Regions from separate parts of the Homo sapiens genome. Here regions 1 and 3 are each linked to region 2. The links come from fine-mapping of genetic effects on gene expression. A gene starts in region 2. Each other region holds a variant in brackets. All regions are shown on one strand. Distances are between the middles of the regions.

Region 1 (8,007 bases), 180 kb after region 2:
TTTATTTTTATTTTTTGAGACTGAGTGTCTCTCTGTCACCCAGGCTGGAGTACAGTGGTGCAATCTTGGCTCACCGCAAGCTCCACCTCCTGGGTTCATGCCATTCTCCTGCCTCAGCCTCCCGAGTAGCTGGGACTACAGGCGCCTGCCCCCATGACCGGCTTTTTGTATTTTTTTAGTAAAGACGGGGTTTCACCATGTTAGCCAGGATGGTGTCGATCTCCTGACCTTGTGATCCGCCTGCCTCGGCCTCCCAAAGTGCTGGGATTACAGGCGTGAGCCACCGCGCCCGGCCGGGCACAGGCATATTTTTATACCACTATTAGAAAATAAATTTTGGCGATGGTTTCTGAATTGCCTCATCAGACTAAAAGAAAGCAAGAGTGCTTACAGGCCTTCCCATTGAGATCATCATTCACCCTATATGTTTTTGAGTACCAAGTGCCCTCTCTCTAGAAGCTTATGCCCTTTAAATAATATATTCATATAAATATAGCATATCATTATTGGATAATGAATTATATTAATATGTAGTGCTAATTTAATCTTTATAACAACATAGCCAGGTCAATATCATAATACTCATTTTGCAGTCAGAGAATTTAAAGTCTAAAGAGGCTGCAACTTTCTCAAGATCTGAGTGCTCCCAGCGATTTGTGATGTCAACATCACACCCACGTACTTTTGTGGTTGGCTCTATGATAGCATGGTGACAGGCTGTGCGCAGCCTTTGTTGTGGTGCTTGCTATTTCTTATTTCATTTTTCTATGCTACAAAATTGTGACTGCACATCTTTGAGTTGTTATTTTAAATGCAGATATTCTAAAATCTGAAGGCAAAGGATCAACATATTCTAGAAACACTCTGGGGAGACCCAGGTAAATAAAGTTAAAGCCGGAGGGATGAAGGGAAAATTATAGACTTGAATCAGTCTAATCTTTACGAAATGTTTGCATTACTATTATATCTTAAAGGGAGGCATTTGGGGGCCCTCGTACCAAGTACCATGTTGATTGTTCTTTCTGTTAAGTATTACAAGCATAATTCTGATCTCTTGCCATTGCTCCTAAAAAGATTTGTTGATGTAGATAATGCATAATTATTGCACACTATGGAGGGCTCCTGGTTGGTGAGTGGATTTTGTCTCAAGATCTGACCTGCTGTGTTGATGGTGGTTGCTGGGAGCCCCGAGTTAGGGAAAATCCTGTGGTTTTCCGTGTCTTTCAGAAGAAGCTGGAGTCAGTTCATGATTTGGTCAGGAGGACTGGGGAGGGTGGTGTTTACCTCCATTAATCAAGAGGAAAGAGGTTTAATATGAAACAGGGATTGTGTATGATGAGGCCGTTAGGATCTCAAGCCAGCAAACAAAGTTAGCATTAAAATACACAGAGAAACCCCTGAAGGGAGGGCCACGTGATTTCAGGCAGCAGTTGTTCTCTGCCAGTGGGATAGACCGCTCTTTCTTTCACTGTGGAGCCTTAGGAGTATTTGAAAGCTTGTGCTGTGAAAAATAGGAATCTTACAGGAGAATCATATGGGGCCTGGAGAGGAACCTGTTTGGGACAGGCCGATTCCCATCTCCTGCCACTCTGTACCTCCTGGGCACCGTGGCCTGCCTTCTCCTCCCTTCTGGTATGTGGAGGGAGCTGGGATTGCTGCGGGAGGAGCAGTGTGTTTGTGTGTAGCTGCTATGAGGAGCAGTGGGGGGACCTGGGGGAGCATCCTGGATTCCTGAAGAGGGAGGGCAGGACCTGGCCTGGAAGGAGGCCCTGCGCTGGGCGGGGCGGTACTGACGGGAGGGGCACGGTGAGCTGCGGTTGGGGATATTCCACTGTGCCCCTTATGTGGCCCGTACTGGAGCCCACAGCTCCCTCTGTTTTCACCCAGGACACTCCCTGCCTGCCAGGACTGAGCCCACAGCTGCCTCCTGAGGAGTTTCCTGACTCCTGTGGGCAAATGTTGGCGCCCATGGCAGCACAGGCTGCGTGAGCTATCAGCTGACATCGTGTTGTTGTTTTTATTTTTTTAAATCTCTGGTTCCCTTAAATATTTATAAAATTTGAGAGCAAGACTGGCTTGAATTGGGGCATCTCTTTTCCTTTTCCCTTCCCTAACCACTTTTCACTCCCCATTTGCAAGGCACTAGTGGAGGCAGACAGGCACATTTGAAGGCAGACAGGGAAAGGTGGGTGCTATCATCTCTATCAATGGGGGTGCATGTGTGGATTTACCCTTGGCCAGAAGGACCTCCCTCTGGGGATCTCTACAATATGCCCCAGGTTGAAGCATTTGATGGGTGGTCAGTGTAGTGAGTGTGGGGCATGGGGAGCTCAAAGGAGGGGCCCAGATACTCTCAGAACATCCTGGAAGGATCCCTGCAAGGGCAGCCTTTGATTGAGTCTTGCTGAGAAGTCAGTCTCGGACAGAGGTGGTAGATTTGTGGCCAACGTGCCATTGGCTGTTGGAAAGCAAATTGAGGCAACATTTCTTCACAATGCCAGTTTTCTACTTGCAAACGCCCTGGTTCCTGGGCCCCTGGAGGCCAGGCCTGAGTCTGAGCCCCATGTTTACAGCACCGCTGGCCAGCGCCAGGCCGTACAAGGGAGACCCAGTCATGTTTGTCAACAGGGAACATCCTTCCACAGTCTTAATTATATTTTTTTGGTTTATTTACCCGTCCCTTTCCTTGTAGATAGCACAAAGGTAAACATCTTCTGGGTCTGCCTGGAGTCACAGCTCCCTGCCTCCTGGGCTGGGTTTCTGGGCTTTTTGTTCCTCTGGTGGATGTTCATCTGGTTAGGGAAGACCCTCCCTGCAGAATTCTCCCGCATGCTGGTCCGGATCATACCTGCTGCGGTGGCTTCTCATTTACTGTTGTGAGGCATGTGATATTTTAAAGCCATCTTTCTCCAAGAAAAGTCTCTTTTATGGGAACGTGGCTGTCTCTGGTAGTCACTACCCCACAGCCTCGGGGTTGGGGAGGTACCTGCCTGTGCACGATTTGGTCTGAGAGCAGAATCCAGCCTGTCCAGGGCCTTCGGCCTTCTGGGGATTTGGGAAAGTGCCACTACCTGGTGGTCCTGCCCCTGATCTCTGAGTGAGGGGTATCCCTGTCCCTGCAGCTCCCCCAGCTGTGGCCTGAGAACCCTTCCAATGATGCCAGTGCTGCGCACGGTCACAAGAAGCAGGGGGGACCTAGTTATACAGGCAGGTCAGGACACTCAGGCTCCTGCTCTGCCCACCGTTCCCCACATGCCAAGCATCTGCAAGGAGGGGCTTGCTCTACCCTTTGGCTCATTGGCACAATCATTTAGGGTGCTTGAGCTGCACCCTGGGGACCTCATGAACCCCAGCTTGAGTTCAGATCACATCAGGGTGATTCTGAACACTTGTCTAAATGCCAACACCCTCTCTGTCTCCCTCTCTCCCTTCCTCCTTCTTTGTATCTCTGTCTCTAAATTACAGCATGCACATAATCATTTAGGATAGTACACACAGTAATGACCGGCTGCTGCTTTTTGGAAAACAAAAAGCTTTAAGTTGCAACATGGAGCATTGAGATCAAAGAAAAGCTATCACAATCAGTTGTTAAAGTCTAGAAAAAAGAGACCATGGAATTCTATTTTTCGGATGTGTTCCAAAACAGGGCACATTCACGTGGTCTGAAAGGGTTTAGGTGTGGCCTCTCTGAGGACTAGCGATAGTGGTGTTCAGAGCTGCGGTTCCACAGGAGCAGCACAGGGAACACATTGAAGCCTCCAGTGGAGCCCCGCACCCAGCAGCAGCAGTGTGGTGCCTCTGCCTGCACCCCAGCTGTCTGCAGGCGCCTGTGCCCCAGGGCTGAAGTTCCACTCCAAAGCGTGAACTCCCAGCCAGAGTCCAGAGGGGAGGCCCTGCTGTGCCGGCCTCCGCGGAGTGTGTTCCTTGCCGGGAACGTGTGTCCCCCGCTGCAGCTACTTTGTTTTGTTTTGTCTCTCTAACCCAGGTGAAATGCTACCACAAGAAATACCGCTCGGCCACCCGTGACGTCATTTTCCGCCTGCAGTTTCACACTGGGGCTGTGCAGGGCTACGGGCTGGTGTTTGGGAAGGAGGATCTGGACAATGCCAGCAAAGGTGAGGCGCGGAGCTGGCGGCCCTGTGCTTGTGGGCAGCTGCGGTTGAACCTCCTTGGTTGATTCTTTCACTATCCCCTTTACCCTCTTTCCAAAATTCAGCCTACTGACAAAATTGTTCCCAAAGTAGGAGAAAATGATCATTGATCCCTGGGGG[A/G]AAAAAATTATGGATAACCAATGAAACTGCCTATACTTTCTGTATCATGGGGTGTCTTTATTGCAGATTTGGGAGTGGTGCTGTACTGGTTGGAATAAAGGACAAAGTCAGTCCATACTTTTCCGGTTAATTGTCTCCACAAATGTGTTAAAATACATTGTTTTTTTCAGATGACCGTTTTCCTGACTATGGGAAGGTTGAATTAGTCTTCTCTGCCACGCCTGAGAAGATTCAAGGTGGGTAGCTTGGTGGAATACTGGGTGGTCCTTGCTGACACTGGTGAAAGGTGCATGATGGCTACGCTGGGGCTGTAGTACTAGTCTCCTGCCTTTGTGCATATTTGGAGATTTCTGTGATTAATTTTATTTAAATGTAGGATATTGGATAGTGGAACAAGAAGGCCCACTTGTGTCAGTAAGCCCCAGAAGTGGCGTGACTTGCTCACAACCACTCAGCCAGGAGAGCCTTGGGCATGACTGGCCATTCTTGTAGGAGTAAGGTGGTATTGCATTGTGGTTTTAATTTGCATTTCTCTGGGGGTTAGTGATGTTTAGCATTTTTTCATGTGTTTGTTGGCCATTTGTATATCTTTTGAAAAATGTCTGTTCATATCATTTGCCCACTTTTTGATGGGATTATTTGTTTTTTTTTTTTGAGGATTTGTTCGAGTTCCTTGAAGATTTTGGATATTAGCTCTTTGTCAGATGCATAGTTTGCAAATATTCTGTCTCACTCTGTGGGTTCTGTTTACTCTGATGATTATTTCTTTTGTGGTACAGAAGATTTTTAGTTTAATTCGGTCCCATTTACTTATTTTTGTTCTGTTGCATTTGCTTTTGGGGTCTTAGTCATGGATTATTTGCCTAGGCAAATGTCCAGAAGAGTTTTTCCTAGGTTGTCTTCTAGACTTTTTATGGTTTCAGGTCTTAGATTTAAATCTTGGATCCATCTTGAGTTGATTTTTATAATATAAGGTGAGAAATGGGGATCCAGTCTTATTCTTCTACATGTGGCTAGCCAGTTTTCCCAGCACCATTTGTTAAATAGGGTATTCTTTCCCCAGTTTATGTTTTTATATGCTTTGTTGAAGATCAATCAGTTGTAGTCAGTTGTATTTCTGGATTCTCTATTCTGTTCCATTGATCTGTGTGTCTACTTTTATACCATGATGTTTTGGTAACTATAGCCTTTTAGTATAGTTTGAAGTCCAATAGTGCGATGCCTCCAGATTTTTGTTTTGTTTTGTTTTTAGGATTGCTTTGGCCATTTGGGCCCCTTTTTGGTTCCATATGAATTTTAGGATTTTTTTTTTCCAATTTCGTGAAGAATGATATTAGTATTTTGATAGGAATTGCATTGAATCTGTAGATTGCTTTGGACAGTATGGTTGTTTTCAGTATATTGATTCTTCCAATCCATGAGCATGGGATGTGTTTCCACTTGTTTGTGTCATTTCTGATTTCTTTCATCAGTGTTTTGTAGTTCTCCTCGTATGGATCTTTCACGTTTTGATTAAGTATATTTCTAGTTTTTTTTTTTTTTTTTTTTCAGCTGTCGTAAAAAGAATTGAGTTCTTAATTTGATTGTCAGTTTGGTCATTGTTGGTGTACAGCAGTGCTACAGATATGTGTACATTGATTTTGAAACCTGATACTTTACTGAATTCGTTTATCAAATCTAGAAGTCTTTTGGAGGAGTTTTTATTGTTTTCTAGGTATATGATCATATCATTGGCAAATAGCAACAGTTTTAATTCCTCTTTTCCGATTTAGGTGCCCTTTATTTCTTTCTCTTAGCTGATTGCTCTGGCAGTACTATTCCAGTACTATGTTGAATAGAAGTGGTGAAGGTAGGCATCCTTGTCTTGTTACACTTCTCAGGGGGAATGCTTTCAACCTTTCCCCATTCAGTATGACATTGGCTATGGGTTTGTCATACATGGCTTTTATTATTTTGAGGTAAGTCCCTTCTATGCCTAGTTTGTTGAGTGTTTTTATCATAAAGGGATGCTAGATTTTATCGAATGCCTTTTTCACATCTACTGAAATGACATATGGTTTTTGTTTTTAATTCTGTTTGTATGGTGTATCACATTTATTGACTTCTATATGTTAAATCACCCCTGCTTCCTGGGATGAAATCCACTTGATCATGGTGTATTATCTGTTTAATGTGCTGTTAGATTCAGTTAGCTAGTATTTTGTTGAAGATTTTTGCATCTATGTTCATCAGGGATATTTGTCTGTGATTTTCTTTTTTGTTTGTTTGTTTGTTATATTCTTTCCTAGTTTTGGTATCAGGGTGATACTGGCTTCATAGAATGAGTTAGTTAGGGACAATTCCTCTTTCTCAGTCTTTTGGAATTGTTCAGTAGGATTGGCACCAGTTCTTCTTTGAATGGATGGTAGAATTCAGCTGTGAATCCATCTGGCCCTGGGCTCTTTTTTATTGGCATTAAAAAAATTATTGATTCATTTTCACTGCTTTTTACTAGTCTGTTCAGGGTTTCTATTTCTTCCTGATTTAATCGAGGAGGGTTGTCTGTGTCCAGGAATTGACCAATTTCCTCTCAGTTTTGTAGTTTATATACATAAAGGTGTTCATAATAGTCTTGAATGATCTTTCGTGCTGGTTGTAATGTTTCGTTTCATTTCTAATTGAATTTATTTGAATCTTCTCTCTTCTTGGTTAATCTAGCTAATGGTCTATCAGTTTTGTTTATCTTTTCAAAATACCAGCTTTTTGTTTCATTGATCTTTTGTATTTTGTTTCAATTTCATTTAGTTCTGCACTGATTTTTGTTTTTCATTTTCTTCTACTAGCTTTGTGTTTAGTTTATTCTTGCTTCTCTAGTTCCTTGAGGTGTGACATGAGGTTGTCAATATGTGATCTTTCAGACTTTTTGATGTAGGCATTTAGTGCTATAAACTTTCCTCTTAACACTTGCTTTGCTGTATCCCAGAGGTTTTGATAACTTGTGTCACTATTATCATTCATTTCAAGGAATTTTTAAATTTCCATCATGATTTCATCATTAACCCCAAAGTAACCAGCATTTTAAAAAGAGAATTAGAAGTATAGTAGGCTGCAAGTATTATGTGCGAAACAATTTTTTTCCCTAAAAAATATATTTCAAAAGAAACCAGTCCCTTTATCATCAAGGTGAATTGTCCAGATCCATCACCAAGATCCACATGCATGGGAGTTTTGTTTCCCTTTTTAATAGCTGTGGAAATAATCATGCTTTTTCTATGTTCATTGTCATAGATTTAGGCAAAAACCTTTAAATACATGGCTTGTGTGTTAAAAATCCCCTTGGTATTCCTAAAAAGACTTGAAGGGAGGAGTGTGGATCTGAGAGCCTGGAGCCTGGATTCAAATCTGTGGACTCTGAGGCTCAGAGACAGCTTACCGGGCCTCTGTGTCCTCATCAGTGAGGTGGTCTGAAGACTCGTTTTGCAGAAGTGTCCAAGCCTGGTTCACAGTGGACGAAAGATCAGTGCTTACTTATCCCTTCCCCCTCGTGGCTTTAACTATGGTTCTAGTTGTGGAAAATCCTCCACAGTCTCTGATTAGTGTTGTGGCTCCTGGCAGGAGGGTGGAGGATGGAGAGGCTTCTCTCTCCTGCTCAAGTCAGGCTGCTCACCTGTCCTTATGGTGGAGTCGGTTGGATGGAGGTGATGGGTTTCACTGGGACTAATGTTGCTGCCTGTGCTCTGTGCAGGGTCCGAACACT
Region 2 (8,007 bases):
GGTGCTGTATTAGGGTTCTCCAGAGAAACAGATCCAATAGGGCATATGCAGATCTATAGAAGAAATTTAATTAATTAATTAATTCATTTATTTTTGAGACAGAGTCTCACTCTGTCGCCCAGGCTGGAGTGCAGTGGCGCATTCTCGGCTCACTGCAAGCTCCACCTCCCGGGTTCACGCCATTCTCTTGCCTCAGCCTCCCGAGTAGCTGGGACTACAGGCTCCTGCCACCACGCCTGGCTAATTTTTTTTTTGTTTTGTATTTTTTAGTAGAGACAGGGTTTTACCGTGTTAGCCAGGATGGTCTCGATCTCCTGACCTCGTGATCTGCCCGCCTCGGCCTCCCAAATTGCTGGGATTACAGGCGTGAGCCACTGCACCTGGCCTAGAAGAAATTTATTATAGGAATTGGCTCACACAATTATGGCTCACACAACTATGTCTGCAAACTGAAGACCCAGGAAAGTTGGTGGTGTAATTGCCAGTCTGAGTCCAAAGGCCTGAAAACCAGGAGCACTGATATTTGAGGGCAAGAGAAAATGAATGTTCCAGCTCAAGAAGGAAGAGGAAGAACTCACCCTTTTTCTGCCTTTTTGTTCTACTTGGGCCCTTGAAGGACTGGATGGTGCCCACCCACACTGGTGAGGATGGATTTGCTTTACTCAGTCTACCCATTCAAACGCTAAGCTCTTCCAGAAACACGCTACCCACACACCCAGAAATCACATTTTACCAGCTATCTGGGCAACCCTTAGCCCAATCAAGTTGACATCTGACATGAGCCATCACAAACACCAAGGTTATGTAAATTCCGAAAAGGTTCTGAGACACGGAAAAGCTCAGGTGCCTCTAGCCAGGCCTGGCAACTGTAAAGCCCACTTTGTTGAGCTGTAGGTGAGGATTCGTGTGTTTGGGAAGAGAAAAAGGAAGAGAGGAAAGGGCCAGGTGTTCTAGTAAGAGTCTCAAGGGACTTAGTATCTTTTTTTTTTTTTTTTTGAGACAGAGTCTTGCTCTGTCACCCAGACTGCAGTGCAGTGGTGCGATCTCAGCTCACTGCAACCTCCGCCTCCTGGGTTCAAGCGATTCTCCTGTCTCAGCCTCCTGAGTAGCTGAAACTACAGGTGCGTGCCACCACTCCCAGCTAATTTTTGTATTTTTAGTAGAGACGGGGTTTCACCATATTGGCCAGGATGGTCTCGATCTCTTGACCTTGTGATCTGCCCTCCTCGGCCTCCCAAAGTGCTGGGATTATAGGTGTGAGCCACTGCGCCCGGCCGAGACTCAGTATCTTAAGGCAAAACACAGGCATTTGCTCATGTTCCAACTCCACAGTTCTCTGAATGCGCTGTAGAGCTTTGTAACTCCATCCTGTGTAATGTTTCCTGCTGTCTCTTTCAGTTGGTCTTTGGGAAATATTTTCAGTGACAGAAAGTAAGAAATAAGGAAAAATATCCAAGTCCTTGCTCATATACCTCCCTTGATCTAGGGATACAAATTCAGATTTTTGCGGTGGCAAAGACAATCTTCATTGCAATGACAAGCTTCCAACACATCTTCTAAAACTCCTACAGGGGAGGAGCAAGAATGAGTCTGCAAAGAAGGGCTCAGGGAGGAAGGAGATTGGCGGGAGTTTCTTGCCCAGACTCCCCTGCCCTCTGCTTGGCATACTAGGAGGGAGAGGCCACTCTTGGCATATTGCTGCTTTTTTTTTTTTTCAGCTAAATGTTGGAGACTTTTGTTTTCAAAGTTGAGTTTTTTTTGGATGGCTAAGGATGGAAAAAATGCACATTCCCTTTTTCAGATACTGGTTCATGCCCTGTTTTTGTTTAATTTCTTGGAAACTTGAAGTTGCAGCCTGCGAAGTGGGGAGGCCCTGGGCTGGGGAAGCGAAGCTCTGGAAGGGGCCCAGGTCCCGATTGGGGATCCAGAGAGGCTTCCCTTCATGTGCCTCTAGACGAGGTGTGGGGAACCCGGGGAACAGCCATCCCAGCCAACACAGAGTGCGTGGGGATACTGGAGCCCGGTTTTTCTTCTCCTTTCTTGGGACACTGCCAGGGAATATAACCACAGACACTGCACGAATGAGCACCCAAGTCACAGTTTTTCTAGAAACAAAGGTGTGGTTGGGGCATCCCATTCCATTGCTACCCCAACAAGGGCAGTGTGGCCGGTGGGGCCATCTGGCTTGGGTGTGGGTAGCAGTTTGGAGAGATTTTAGAAGAGGCTCCCTGACAAAGGGTCAGAGAACCCCAGCACTGCACTGAGTTTTCCTGACTGTGAGCTCTCAGACAAACAACAGTGTCACCTCCTGTAAATGGGTGCCCTAACACTGCAAGAAGCTCAAATTCATGTTGTCATTCAGCCAACATGGTTTTTGGCATTATGATGGTTTCTGTGATGCACAGAATAGCACGTAATTGGCTCTGGGTGTGAAGATCACCACGGTCTTAATGGAAGAGAGGGTTGAGCAAAGTGATGATTTAGTCCAATTGCACAGAGTGGATGGTGTGGGCAGGCAGCTGGGAAGAAGTTAAGAGTAGCCTCAAGGCCAGATAGTCCTGATCCCTCCCACTTTCTTCGCCTGACCAGGTGGGTGACCTTGAACAAGTTGCCTAGAATGTCAGATCCTGTTTCCTTATCAGGACAAAGGAGATCGTAACAGTACCAGCCTCACCCCCATTCCTAACCCAGCTGGCTGTGACCTCCTCCCCACCTTCCCCTATGGCATCTTCCCTGGCACCCCTTGACTCATCTCATTGACTCTTGACCTGGTGTCTCCTAGAGTGTAGGAAAAATGCCTGCCTCATCTCTAGGGGCTGGGGCATGGTGCTCATGAAGCCTTTGCCTGGGAATAAATACCCAGATCAGTCTGGGGATGAGAAATGACACTACCTTCCAGAGCACAGCAGGGGTTGTTCAAGTCTTCCAGAAAAGCAGCTCTTGTTTCTCCTCATGTGGTGGGAGTGGAGTCAGAGCGTGGCTCAGGCCCCACATTCTCAGCTGTTTGGATCTGGGGACTCGAAGTTTCTGGTGGTTACTTCTGAAAGTCTTTTCCAGGATAATTATTCTTGCTCGGTTTCTCTGCCATCTCTGACAGGCTGTTTTCCCTGCTTCCCCCGCTGCCCTGAAGGGGCCAGAGGAACAGGGCAGGACCCCAGGGCTGCGGATGGGTTAGGCAGCTCTGTTCCCGAATCCAAAGCAGTTCTTGGTGACTGTCCTCCAAGACTTGCCCTGGACCCTGCTCCGGGTGGGATTCTGAGACCGCCTGCTCCACGTGGCAGATGAAATCTAGGTCTCTTCTGTGAGAGGCTGGCGGGGAGGATGTTTTCCTGGAAAGGACCACAGGACAAACCGCTGATGAAATTTCTCTTGTGACCTCCCTGGAGGAAGAGCACTTCTGATTTCTGCAAACTTTTTCCATTCCCCCGATCTCACAAATGGGGAAACTGAGGCTAAGCGACTGAGTTCAGGGCCATCTGAATCTCAGGGATGGACAGTCAGGATGGACAACCTATAGGCCTTTCCTCCTCTGAGAATCTCTCTGCTCGGGATCGTTTTTCTGGTTTCCCCTGGCTTGCCTAAATTCTGCTCATTTGTCCCGGCGCATTTTAAGAAGTCATGTGACTTCTAAAGACTTCCCTGACCTCCTCCCTTCATTAGCTGGGTATTTCAGGGGCTTCTACGGCACCCTAGGCTTTCCGGAGCGGCTGTGCTCCTTTATGTATGCGCGACTCCCACTAGGCTATGAGCTACAGGAGGGAGGGTAGGTCTTGCTCCCGGAGAGCACCTTAATCACAGGCGCTGAATGAAAGAATGAACTGGTTGTGCAGGAACCAGGATCCGAACCCGCCTCCCCAGGTACTCTAACACCGGCCCGGCGGAACCTGCAAGCCTCCAGACCACTTGGAGCCTGGGCTGCTCAATGGGTCTGATAATTCCAGGTCCTCTCTGCGGCCAGCGAAGGGAGGTCCCAGGGCGCACCTCGGCAGGGCGGGGGACCCCGGTGAAGGGCGCCTGGAGGCGCGCTGCATTGTTAGGGTGATGAGGCCAGGTGACCCGCCAGGCTCGGGGCGCGGGCGCGGGGGCCGGCCGTGGCGATTGCCCGCGCCGCCTCGAGGGGGCCCTGCCGCGGGCGCCGGCAGCCAGCCAGGAGGACGGGCCCGCCCGCGCGCTACTCGGAGCCCAGCCTCGTTGCGGCCATCGCCCTGCCGGACCGCGCCTCAGGCTCCCCCAGGTACTGGGGCCGGGGAAGGAGGAAACGCGGCCACGCGCCGCGGTCCTCTTTGTTTCGGGCCCGGCGCGGGCTTTCGCGCTCCGGGCGCAGGAACGAGGCTTGGGGAGCACAGAGATCTGGAGCTGGGGCGCGGGGACTGAGTTCGGGGAGCGCGGAGACAGAGTTCGGGGAGCGCGGGGTACGGGAGCTCAGGGCGCGGGGATGGGGTCACGGGAGAACCCAGGTTAGGGAGCGCGGGGACCCGGTTGGGGGCGCACGGGCAAGGGGTTTGGTGCGCGCGGGTACGGGGTTTGCGGCGCGTGGGGGGCGGGGGCTCGGCAGGAGTCCCAGGACAGGGGCTGGGGCGCGGGCCAGCTTCGCCGGAGTCCGGGGACGGGGGCGCTGACTGGCTGGGTTTGGGGACTGGCTGGGGCGCAGGACCACTCGAGTGGGACCCGTGGCGCCCGGGCGCCCTGGACTGAGGGCAGAGACCGGAGCAGCTATGTCGCAGTCGCTGTCGGGACCGAGCGGACTTTGCTCCCTAGGACTCCGTCTCGAGACTCCAGGTGGAGAGCGCAGCTAGGGGCTTCAATGGGCAGGCTCAAGACCCTTCTCCTACTTTTTCTAGGCAAGCTCTCCAGTGCGTCTCTTTCCCTTTCCCTTTGGTGGGTGGGAGGCAGGGGGTCTTTACGCGCTTCCTTTTTTTCCCTGAAGGACGGGACCTCGGGGTGGGGGGATATTCTGGGGTGGGGGGTGCTGTCCCAGGCTGGGGGCCAGCTGTGTGGCATGTGCCTCCTGGCACGCGGGAGCTGTCGCTGACAAGCAGGAGGAGGGAGGGTCCCGGACGGCCCAGGGGTCTCTGTGTCGGTGCTGTGCAGCGGCCTGACATGTGAGTCCCGGGTCCTTTGCTTGGAGTGATTTGAGTGTCTGTGGCGGGAAGAGATTCAGGCGTTCCTCAGGCATTCTCCAGACAGTGTCAGCAGATGACCCGAACTCCAGCGTGGTTGAAAAACTCAAAGCGCCATCAGGGTGTGGGGCCAGCAGAGAGCACTACTGAGGGTGGTCACAACCCCCTGGGAAGCCCCCAGGCTTCCTTGGGGCGCATTCACACACTTTGATCTTCCGGGTTGGCTTTCCCCCCATTTTTTTCACTATTTGAATGCATGATCATGGAGGACTCTGAAAATATACTGAAAAGTATGAATGCAGAACTCATTGTATTAATATTGCATGGCCCTTCTGAACTAACCAACCCTTTGACATTTTAGATTTTCTTGAGGCTTTGGTCTGTGCATATTAATTTTTTAAATTGCTTTCATGCTTTCCCTTTTGAATGAGGTTTACTTGTTCTGGTGATTCTGGTTCTTCTCTCTTTGGGGCCTGTGAGGTTATATTTGCAAATCAATCAACAAGTATTAAGAAAGGCTTTTCTGTGCTGAGGCCTTGAGGGCCAGGGAGGGGGTGGGGAGTCGCTGCAGCTGGAGGGTGGAGGGGCAAGGCCATTACACAGAGATGGAGGTGCACTGGGTCCTGGTGGGGGTGTGGTAGCACAGGGGGTGGGGGGTGTGTACACAGGGAATTGACAGGAGGAACTGGCAGCAAGCCCGACTCCTGACCTTAGGAATAGTAATGGTGACCCCGAAGACAAAGTAACAGGCATACCGATTGAGTGTTTGCCTGTGCTAAATGCTTTGCATGCATTCATTTCATTTCACCCAAATTACATTCCTTGGAGGGAGTTGGGATTATGATTACCCCATTTTACAGACGAGTAAACTGAGGCAAAGGAAGGCTAAGTAACTTGGCCGAGATGAAATGAAACATGGTGGTAGTGCAGCCTGGGATTCTGGGACAGGACTCTAGGGTCCCAGACCCCTGTTCCTGGCTGCTGCTGCGCGTCTGTCGACTGAATTCTAATGCATGTCCAGACAGCGATTCCTCAGCTGAGGCTGCCATAGCTATCAGCAGCTCAGCTGAATTATGTCTTTAAAAAACTACCAAGATAGAAAAACTAGTAGCCCCAGGGCACTACTTATTCCTGAATGCAAATTGATTTTTTTTTTTTTAACAAAGTGTCTCTTTGGCACCTAATGTTTTGAAAGTGAGCTGTTTGCAAATGTGACTCTGGAAATAAAGGGCAGGAGAGGGGGTGTCAAAGTATGCTCTTCCACTGCAGGAGGTGTTGCTGAAGGGGATAGCAGAGACCTGAGGAGGAGGCAGTATGGCAAGAACAGTGAGTGGAAGGGCTGACCTACCATTTGGCAGTCGCAGCTTATATCTGCTTAGGACTCTACACAAGGACCCATTTTACAGATGAGTAAAATACCAAGTAAATTCTTAAAGTCTGGGAACAGTTAGGGATCTGAATGAGCCCAGTTCTCTGACTCTATGTGCCCCATTCCTTTCTTAAGATCAGCCTGTTGTAAACCACCCCTGTTCAGGGGAAGCCTCTTGTTCCCTCCCTGTGTCCCTGTGTATGAACTTGAGAGGGGGAGGAACTTTCCACCTTCCTGAGGGCAGAAAGCATTGTTTAGATCCCTGCCACTTACTAGGAAGCCAGAGACATTTGCTGAGTGCCTCAGCAGCACGCTTAGAATTGAGGCTTCGAGGCTTCCTCACAGCGGCCCCCATAGATTTCCCAGGGAGGGGCCTCCTGTCTTGCGGGTTGATCTGGTGGGTTTGCCCCATGCAGCAGGAGCTATCATGGGAAGGGTGGGTCTGGGCGTCTGAAGCTCTCCAGGAGGTCAGCTGACCCTGGGACCCCGGGTCCTTCCTGTAGGACCCCAGAAATCACTGGGGAATCAGCTAACCCCTGCAAGCTGTGCCTGGAATGACCTAGAGCCAGTCCTGTCTACCTAGAATCCTCTGCTGCTATCCTTGTTGATCTAGAATGAGGGATGCTGGTTAGTTGGTTAATTAAGTAGGTGGTTGATTAACTTAGTTACTCTCTTCCTCACAGCAAGAGTATTAAAAACCATCACAACATGGAACACAGTTCTTTCTTTCTGCCCCCACAGTGAAGGGCGTGTTGCGTGGCTTCATCTTCACAGGGATCATGGCTCACAGTTGTGTCGTTTCCACGCTGCCTCACTGCTCCTAAAACGCTGAGACAAGAAAAATCGCTGCCACCAAAATGCTGCTGAGCAGGACTAAATTCTCCTAGATTGAGGGCGTTTTGAATCTTAGAGTATGTTGAATCCGGATGCAGGCCCGTGTCCTGCCGTGGGGCTTTTCGAGTGCAGCTCGGGCAGGAACAGTGGTTTCCTTGATGTCTATCCGTTTCTCGTAAAAGCAGAAAACTAGACTCTCCAAGTTTCGTGAGCTTTCTGTTTGTACTCTGTGACTCAGGAATGTGTTTGGTACACATCCATCACTGCAATGTGGGATGTAGTGCTGAGCTCAGGGTCCCTCGGGTGTCTCCATTGTCTGCATGGCGGCATCTCCTGTCCTGCTCAGTGTACTCCAGGAGCACCGTGGCCCTCTAGACACACCTCTAACCACCGCCCCCCCCCAACCCCCTGCCCCATGCACCTGGCGCAGCTCTACCTGGTATCCCTCACCTGTTGCCTCCTACCCTCGCTGGGAGTTGCCTCTGCGAAACAGGAGGGAGGAGGCCAGTGAAAATGAGGGTGACTGAGGATGGGGGCCATCAACTTGGGGATGAAGCACTGCACACAATTTAGGGTCCCTCGGAATGCCTCACTGTGTCAGGGAAGGGGAGGATTCTCACATGCTTCTTTTTATTTTTTTATTTTTATTTTTTTGAGATGGAGTCTTGCTGGAGTCCAGGCTGG
Region 3 (8,007 bases), 99 kb after region 2:
CTATACCCACACGGCTTTAGAGAAACTGATGGAAAAATGTCACTTTCTATATGGCTGTTTACAAAGTGAAATTTAATAAGAAACAACAATAAAAGCTGAGTTTGGAGTTTTATTGTGTTCATCAAAAGGAAAACAATGTCGGTCAAGCACGAGGAGAACTGAGTTGTCCTTTATTTCTCCCAGGACTTGGATCTCCCAGAAGTAAGCAGAGAGGGATTGGTTCAGGTTTGAAGAGTTGATCTCACTCCTTACTGAGGAAGATCTGCACCCGAGGCCCTGTGTCTGTTAGCACTGGGGGTAATGGTGGCCGGGCCAGTGCACCTTGGATGAAAGCACTTTCTAAGGCAGAATGTACTTGTTAGCTGAAGTGCTTTCATTCACCTTGGGGGATGGAACTGCAGGGCTAAGCTTTGTTGTGTGTGCACACACACAAACACACAGAGACACATACAGGTATACACTCACACACGGAGACACACACAGACACGCTCTCACATCAATACACACACATGAGGCATAGGCATACATAGAAACACACACAGACACACTTACAAAACTCAGTTTCACACATGCACGTTCATACATTCTCACAAGCACACACGCTCACACCCCCTACACTTTTACACTCCCATGCACATAACTACTGACTCACCCACTCATATGCAAACTCACAACACTCTCAAACTTACACACATTCACACAAAAGAATATATTTGCAGATATCCACAGTAAAATATACCTAGTCAAACACAGACACCACCACATGTAGTCACTCACACACACACACTCACCCACACACCCACACTCACACACCTGCACTCACCCCCACACACACTCACCTCCACACACCCACACTCACACACCCACACTCACCCACATTCACACACCCACACTCACACTCATCCACACACACATACGCTCACCCACACACTCACATTCCCAAGGACACAGTCATGACTTGGTGGCAAGCACTTGTCCCTCTGCCCCTCTGTCCTGTGGACCTGCTGGCTTGGGGACAAGGTTATTGATGCCAGTGTACCCAGGCACCCACGTAGCCAGGTGTGGGGCAGGCACAGCAGTGTTTGTTTGTGGTTTCCTTGGGAACAGTAGATTAGGATCCCAGGATAGCTGAAAGAAGGCAATAAAGAGGCTCCCAAACAGGCTTCTCAGAGGGGCCCTCGCCTCCACCATGGGAGGGACGGATCCCGGGGATGCCACAGCCCATGGCTTTTGGCCCACAGCCCATGACCCACTGCCTTCTCTCCAGCCTTCTGTAGCTGCTAACGGGAGCTGCTCTGCCCCCTTCCTTGTCTCACTGTTGTCACCTCTTGTCACCCTAATCCCTGAGGGAGCTGCTCATTATGAGAGAGGGTGCAGCTCCTATCAGGAGAGGAGCCTGGAGCTGGGGCACCAGCTGGAGTCATCTCTGGGAGAGTTCCCGTGGCTGGCGCTGGCCCTCTCTGAGACGCAGCTTCTCATACACAGAGTGGGGGCTCGCTGGCCTTATTGTGAGGGCTACAGAGAAAGACCTACAGACAGGGCACTGTTTCGTGTTTATCCAGCTGATTCGAGTCCACACATTGGATGAGCCGTGGGCCTCCCCAGGAGTGTGCCTTGACACAGGGAACGCTGCCTGGTTCTTGTCTCATCCTTTCACGCCCCTGCAGCTCACTCAGCATCATGTTACAGAGCAGGCAAAGCACAAGGCCAGCGGGTGCCCATCTAGACTCCTGGCCATGCCACCGCACACATCCCAGCCATGCTGGCTGTGCACTGATGGGGCCAGGCGCAGCTCAGAGGCTTCTGGTTGGCGTCTGCAGGACGGTCTCAGGGGATGCAGTGCACCGGGACCCTCCCAGCCCTGCAGCGTTGGGTGGCTGCTCTCTCTGAATAAGTCAGACTGGCATGTTAAGAACATAAGTGCTAAAGAAGTGTTAGCTTCTTTGTGCCGAGGAAGGCCAAGCCCACCTGGAGTTGGCCCCGACCCACGGTGCTTCCCTCTGTCCAGTGAAAACAGTGAAAGAACCCCACAGTGCTGGGGAATGTGTGATCAGAGCTGGAGTTTGAGGTGAGGAGAGCAAGCAGGTGTGCCTTACTCCCTTACCTGGCTCCATCCACAGGAGATACCCTCCTGATGCATGGGAGGCAGGGCAGCCTGTAGATCAGTGGAGAGCTGTGTGCGCTCCAGCAGGGATGCAGCTCTGTGCACGGAAGCACTGTGCTTCTGCCTCTGCTAAGGCTGAAGAACAGCAAGTGACACTTGACTGTCCAGCAAATGCAGCTGATAGCACCGTCGCACAGTCCCCATAGGTTCCTTGGTGCTGAGCAGGCCGGTATGAGCATCCCCAGCCCGGCCGCCTCATCCTGTGGTTCTGTCTGTGGTCAGCTTACCTGCCTTAGTATAAGGGAGGAAAAGTGTGACGGAAATACAGTCTCTTTTCAGGGACTTCCTGTCCTGGAATCTGGTTTTAGCCACATTGAAAGAACAAGTGCCCTCTGTGTTCACTTGGTCATGGTTTTTGCTAAATGAGATGTTTGTACTTATAGAAATGATGAGTTTTCTCTTTATCAACAGGTGACTCTTTGCTTCTAGAATGTCCCTTTTTCTCTGGTTGGTGCTCCATGTGCATTTTTATTTGCAAATCCACTCCCACAAAAGGTCTTTCCTGAGACATTTTTGTCTGCATTTTGTAACAGCACATGTGCAAACAGACAGTAGGGCCTGTGACTGGTTCTCTTGGAAGAGAGGAGCAAGTTCAGTAGGATGCGAATGTGGAGGCTCAGGGCAAGGCTGCCTGCCATTTGCTCTGCAGAACCTGGGGGCTGCTCGCCCCCTACTGTTCCCCAGCTCACTTTCTTAAAAACGATTCATTTTATGCAGTTTCTATTACGTGAGCCGTAAGCTCTGTGGGGTTAGGGACCAGTCTGCTTCATTTCCAAGTGAAGTCCTGGCAGGAGAAGGCTGTCAGTGAAAATGTGCAGCACAAGTGATGGATGGAGTTCGACAAGATTGGGCGTGCCAACTTATCGCGCGAGCCGGTTAGCCATATAAGCCGTGGATGGTCTGGGGTGAGATGGGACTCGGGCAGTCCCGGCTTACAGAGCTCACCTCTCCTTTTCTGTAGGACACCCTGGGGCCAGGCCAGGTGGTGGGCCGTTATTGCACCCCATCTGGCCACAGAGGGATGTGGGAACACACAGACCTGGCTTCTGGACCAAATCCTTAAGTGGCTGCCGTCTTTAAAACTCAAGTTTCTGACATTGCACAAGGCTTTTCTTTTCATTGTCTCAACAAACGTGTGCTTCCAGAGAGTGAATTTAAAAAATGTATTATAGACTGTATTTTTAAGAGAGTTTTAGATTTATACAAAAATCAGACACTCAGGCCAGGTATGGTGGCTCACGCCTGTAATCCCAGTACTTTGGGAGGCCGAGGTGGGTGGATCATGAGGTCAGGAGATCGAGACTATCCTGGCTCACACAGTGAAACCCCATCTCTACTAAAAATACAAAAAATTAGCCAGGCGTGGTGGCGGGCGCCTGTAGTCCCAGCTACTCGAGAGGCTGAGGCAGGAGAATGGCGTGAACCCGGGAGGCGGAGCTTGCAGTGAGCCAAGATCGTGCCACTGCACTCTAGCCTGGGTGACAGAGTGAGACTCCGTCTCAAAAAAAAAAAAAAAATTGGACACACTCTTCTTCCTCTTCATATATAAACATTTTCCATTCCTGTGGTACATTTGTTACACTTGATTAGCCAATATTGATACAGTCTTAGTAACCAGAGCCCTCGGTTTACATTAGGATTCTCTCCTGGTGTTGTACATTCTGTGGGTTTAGACAAATGCAGAATGACGTGCGTCCATCCTTATAGTGTCAAGCAGAATAGCTTCATGGCCCTAAAGAGTCTCTGTGCTCTGCCTGTTCCTCTCTCCCTCCTAATCCCTGGCTTTCACTGACCTTTTCACTGTCCCATAGTTTTGCCTTTTCCAGAATGTCACAGAGTTGAAATCATACAGTATGTGGCCTTTTCAGAGTGGCTTCTTTCACTTAGTAATATGCATTTAAGTTTCCTCTTTGTGTTTTCCTGCCTTCATAGCTCATTTTTTTTTTCATCATGCTTGACATGCCATTGCAGGAATGCTGATAGTGAGTTTGAAAGGCAGGGGCCCTGATTCTTCGCACATTTCTTGCCTGCATGTCACATGTGGAGTGAGGCAACAAGATGCATGTGTGCACTGAGTAGATACCATGCTTGAGGGGAGATAAGTCACACCGCTCTGTTAACCATGGGGTCTCCTTGTCCGGCTGTTTCCGCCATCCTGTAAGGTTTTGTCTGTGACTCCTTCTGTTTCCAAAGCTGTTTTTGTTTTGTTTTGCTTTACATTTATTTGTTTACTTATTCTCTCATCCATTCATCAAACTTTAAAGGGGCCCTGAGAGAGGACCCCTGCCCCAGACATCCGTCTGAGTCAGAGCCATGGTGGAGTAATGATGTGTCCCAGACACAGGAACGGCCATGTGTCACATACTCCCTGAGGACTGGACTGCGTAAGATAAGCAAGAGGCTATAAATAGTTATCCTGGTAA[A/G]AGCCAAGATTACGCCGCCGCCCACTCCAAACCACAAGTACAATTAGTCAGATCTCTGAGATTCTCTACGATTCTCCTTCGGTTGCACATTTTCAGAAAACTCTTTGAGAAGGCAGGTGCCAGGGATCTGGAGGGGGCAGTGCCAGGAGAAAGCTAAGGAGTGAGGTCACTCACCAGGAACTGAATCCTGTTTGCTGGCGCCTGGCTCCTGAGCGGCCCCCCAGAGCAGCGCAATGCCTGCCTGGCTCCCTTAGCCCCTGCCCTGTGCCACTCTTCTGAGCTCCTCACGCGCCATCTCTTAATTCTCACCATGACCCTGCCCGGAAGGCACTATTGTTACCTGCAGTTTTCAGATGTGGAAACTGAGGCCCAGAGAGATTAAAGGCCAAGGTCCTGTGGCTAGTAAGTGGTGGAGATCCTGCCCAAGGTGGGGTCTTTGCCCTGCAGGACTGGTGGCTCCCTGTGCCTGTTACTAACTGCCTCTCCTGACTGTGTTTGAGCCACCTTGCCTCCGTTACTTTCTTTATCTTTCCCAGGGAGCTCTCGGTCTTCAGAGACTATGGTGGAGTCAAAGTCTCCTCTCCCCGTCTCTTGTGCGGAATGGAATAACCAGGTTGACATTGCCACATTCAGACTCTTCAGTTCTACTTGTAGAAATAGTTCTAGAAAAGATGGCCCCTTGTGTAGAGAATGCATGCCCCTGGGTGAGGATGGGAGGAGTGGGGTCTTGAAGACCACCAGGCAGAGCCTTCCACCTCCTTCTCTGGGCCCCGCTCCCAAGCTCCCCAAGCACGGACCGACTCAGAGGTTTCCATCCTTGAGGTCTACCAGTTCTTTGTGAAAGTGGGGGCTAAATTTTGTATCTATGAGTGATTTGCATTTTTCTGGAAGGGGAGGCCCCATGGTTTCCATGACATTAGCAAAAATGACAGGGACTTTCCAAAAGTGAACAAAACCCTGGACTCTCTTAACTCTAAATCTTGTCAGTCTTGATCTGCTACAGCTTTGTAGCCAGAGTGAGGTTAGAGACAGTTTCATTCAGTCTTTGGGAGCCTGGCTTGATTATTATGCTAATTTTTTCCTGGAGAATCCATTTGCTTATCTGTTTCTTCTCTCTTTGAAAGGTGGTGATTCCCTGCGGTGTGCAAGTCCGACTGGAACAGGTAAGCCCTTTGCATTTCTTTGGCTCCCTTGTTCCATCCAAGAAAGGACTAAGTCCTTTCTTGAAGCTGCTCCCTCTTTGGGGATCTTTTGGCTTCCTCTAGGATCCATGCCCTCCCTTTGACCTGTAGCTTGCATTCACAAGGCTCTATCTGAGGTCCTTTGACCATGCTGCACTGGCCATTTGCATGGTTTTTTAGAGAAGAGGATCCGCTGCGCCTTTGCGGGAGCTGCCTTTCTATCAGTAATAGTTACCTTCGGGGCGAATCTCCCTGGGCCGAGTTTCCTTGGCTATAAAGTGAAGACAGCACAAGTCTGTTGTCTTAGTGATAAAAACCTGGACAGTGAGGGTGCCTGGGTCGCCAGGTGGCTGTGGACAGTGTAGTGCAGTGGTTTGTAGACTGACATCCAGCTCTGACAAATACTGGGTGTGTGTGTGTGTGTTCAAATCAGATTGAAGGTAAACACAATAGCACTTTCTCTTTGGCTTGTGATTAGGCAAATTTAAATTGCTGTCTGCTTTTCAAATGCAGCTCCTTGGAAGGTCATGGTACCTCCTGGTGTTTTCTTTGCCTCCATCCTTTGGAGCTGAGTGAGTGAAGCTTTGTTTCTGAGGGCTTATTAGCAGCTTGCAGGATAATTGAAAGGCTCACTGTGCCAAGACAGTAGGATACAGGACCCTCTTCTCTCACTGCAAGTCAGAAGCGACTCCCTGGGAGGCAAATGGGAAGCTGCCTCTTGCTGCTGGGGAAGTGTGTGCAGGTCTGGGCCTCCCCGGTGGGGCAGGGAAACAGGTGCACCCTGTGGTTCCTCCTGGGCATCTGTCAGGTGTGTTGTTCCCTGTACTTCTCAAGTAGGGCAGGGCTTTCTGCTCTTGGCTCCCCCTAGCTTCGCCATACACAGAATCTGGGGTGTTCTGCCGGAGATTTGGCAGCCTTTCTGGATTGTGAGCCTGGTGGCCTCCAGACATGGAACTGGCTAACTGGCTCTGTCTTGTGGTGCAGTAGGACATCCTTCCCCAGGCTCGGCCAGCGGCGCCCGTGTGGCAGCTTCCCTGCTTTGATGAAGTCAAGATCAGATCCTGGCTCCAGTGGCTGGGCCTTGCCCTTGCCCCCTGCCCATCTGAGCCTTGGTTTCCTCCTTTACCCAGTGGGCGTGGGGGTGGCTCTCTAACCTCATCACTTGAGTGGCCAGGCCCTGCCCTCGCCCCCTGCCCACCTGAGCCTCGGTTTTCTCCTTTATGCAATGGCCATAGAGGTGCTCTCTAACCTAGCTGCGGATGAGAGAAGAGGGACTACAGGGTCAGGCCTGTCACAGAAGCCTGGCCACAGGCGGGGTGCCCTTATTATGCTCCTTTTAATGCTGGCATGTGGTGTGGTCTCTTTGGTTCTGGAAGAGCAAAGTATGCATTTGAGGTCATAGGAACGTTAAAAATAAAATCTCACCCAGAAACCTAAAATATTGACAAACTATGAGAAACATGTTGCAGCATCAAGAGCTGAGGCCGTCCGGGGCGGGCGCCTGCCTGGCTGTCCCTGCTGGCCTCAGCTGTGTCCCCAGGCCTGTGGTCCAGTCTCACTCCATTCCTCCTGTGGCACTCACCGCCGACGGGGGGGTGGGGGAGTAGGGGGCGTGGGGGGACTTGGGAGCCTGTGTTTGTAGTTGGTTTTGACAGGCTGCGGTTTGTGACTGATTTCCTCAGGCTTGTCATAGGCCCCGGGAGCCAGGGGCTGAGGCCCAGGTGGCCCCAGAGCTGTGTGCCTGTCCCGAGGCCCTGGCTGAAGCCTGTTTTCCTGGTGGCAGCTGAGGCTCTCCCACCTCGCAGACAGTCCCTTGCCATCAGATTTGTTGGTGAGCCCTGGACATCAGAGGCACCAGAGGGCTAAAGCTGTGTGCTGGCTCTAAAGATGCCGGTTGCAGGGCTGTCAGACAGGCCAGAGCCCAAAGGGCCCATCCTGGCTGCTTAGATGTTGTCATTGTTCCCTCTGGAGCCCAGGGTCCCAGAGAGGAGTCTTCAGTCTCCTGGAGCACAGCCCTCCCCCTGCGTCAGGACACGGCCTCCCTGTTAACCTTTTCACAGGTGTGGTTGCTAAGAGATCTCGCTCTTCTAGCCCAGCCTGGCTCCTGCCCACTCCCCTTGCTGCTGCTCTGTGTGTGTGTGTGTGTATTATGTGTGTAATTGTTGTGCGTACAAATACATACATGTATGTTATGCATGTAGTTGTTACATGTATATGGATAGACATGCATGTTATGCAT

Direction of the effects. Positions count from the first base shown, and alleles are read on the strand shown. Sizes are in standard deviations (SD) of each study's normalised expression.
For the expression in skin of the gene that starts at base 4,174 in region 2, A is the low allele of the variant in region 1 and G is the other (small effect, 0.27 SD a copy in TwinsUK).
For the expression in monocytes after LPS of the gene that starts at base 4,174 in region 2, allele G in region 3 goes with a lower level than allele A (moderate effect, 0.48 SD a copy in Fairfax 2014).

What was found. PIP is the estimated chance that this variant, and not a neighbour inherited with it, causes the effect.
Region 1: its variant is fine-mapped to the expression of TNS3 in skin (TwinsUK, PIP 0.91).
Region 3: its variant is fine-mapped to the expression of TNS3 in monocytes after LPS (Quach 2016, PIP 0.95). The same link has a PIP of 0.9 or more in monocytes after Pam3CSK4.

Annotation. Positions count from the first base shown.
Region 1 is chr7:47,396,893-47,404,899 of GRCh38, reverse strand. TNS3 (tensin 3) reads left to right here. Exons shown (of 31, transcript NM_022748.12): 14 at 3,986-4,115; 15 at 4,442-4,507; 16 at 7,996-8,007. Among named protein-coding and RNA genes, the nearest start is that of SNORD151, 64 kb to the left of the region's middle. RefSeq lists enhancers at 1,262-1,770, 3,517-4,426. The variant A/G (reference allele first, on the strand shown) is at 4,272.
Region 2 is chr7:47,578,278-47,586,284 of GRCh38, reverse strand. It overlaps TNS3 (tensin 3), which reads left to right and starts at 4,174. Exons shown (of 31, transcript NM_022748.12): 1 at 4,174-4,234. RefSeq lists enhancers at 3,763-4,300, 4,301-4,838.
Region 3 is chr7:47,478,846-47,486,852 of GRCh38, reverse strand. TNS3 (tensin 3) reads left to right here. Exons shown (of 31, transcript NM_022748.12): 4 at 5,712-5,750. Among named protein-coding and RNA genes, the nearest start is that of SNORD151, 18 kb to the right of the region's middle. RefSeq lists enhancers at 4,315-4,862, 5,573-5,662, 5,435-6,116, 6,117-6,800. The variant A/G (reference allele first, on the strand shown) is at 4,588.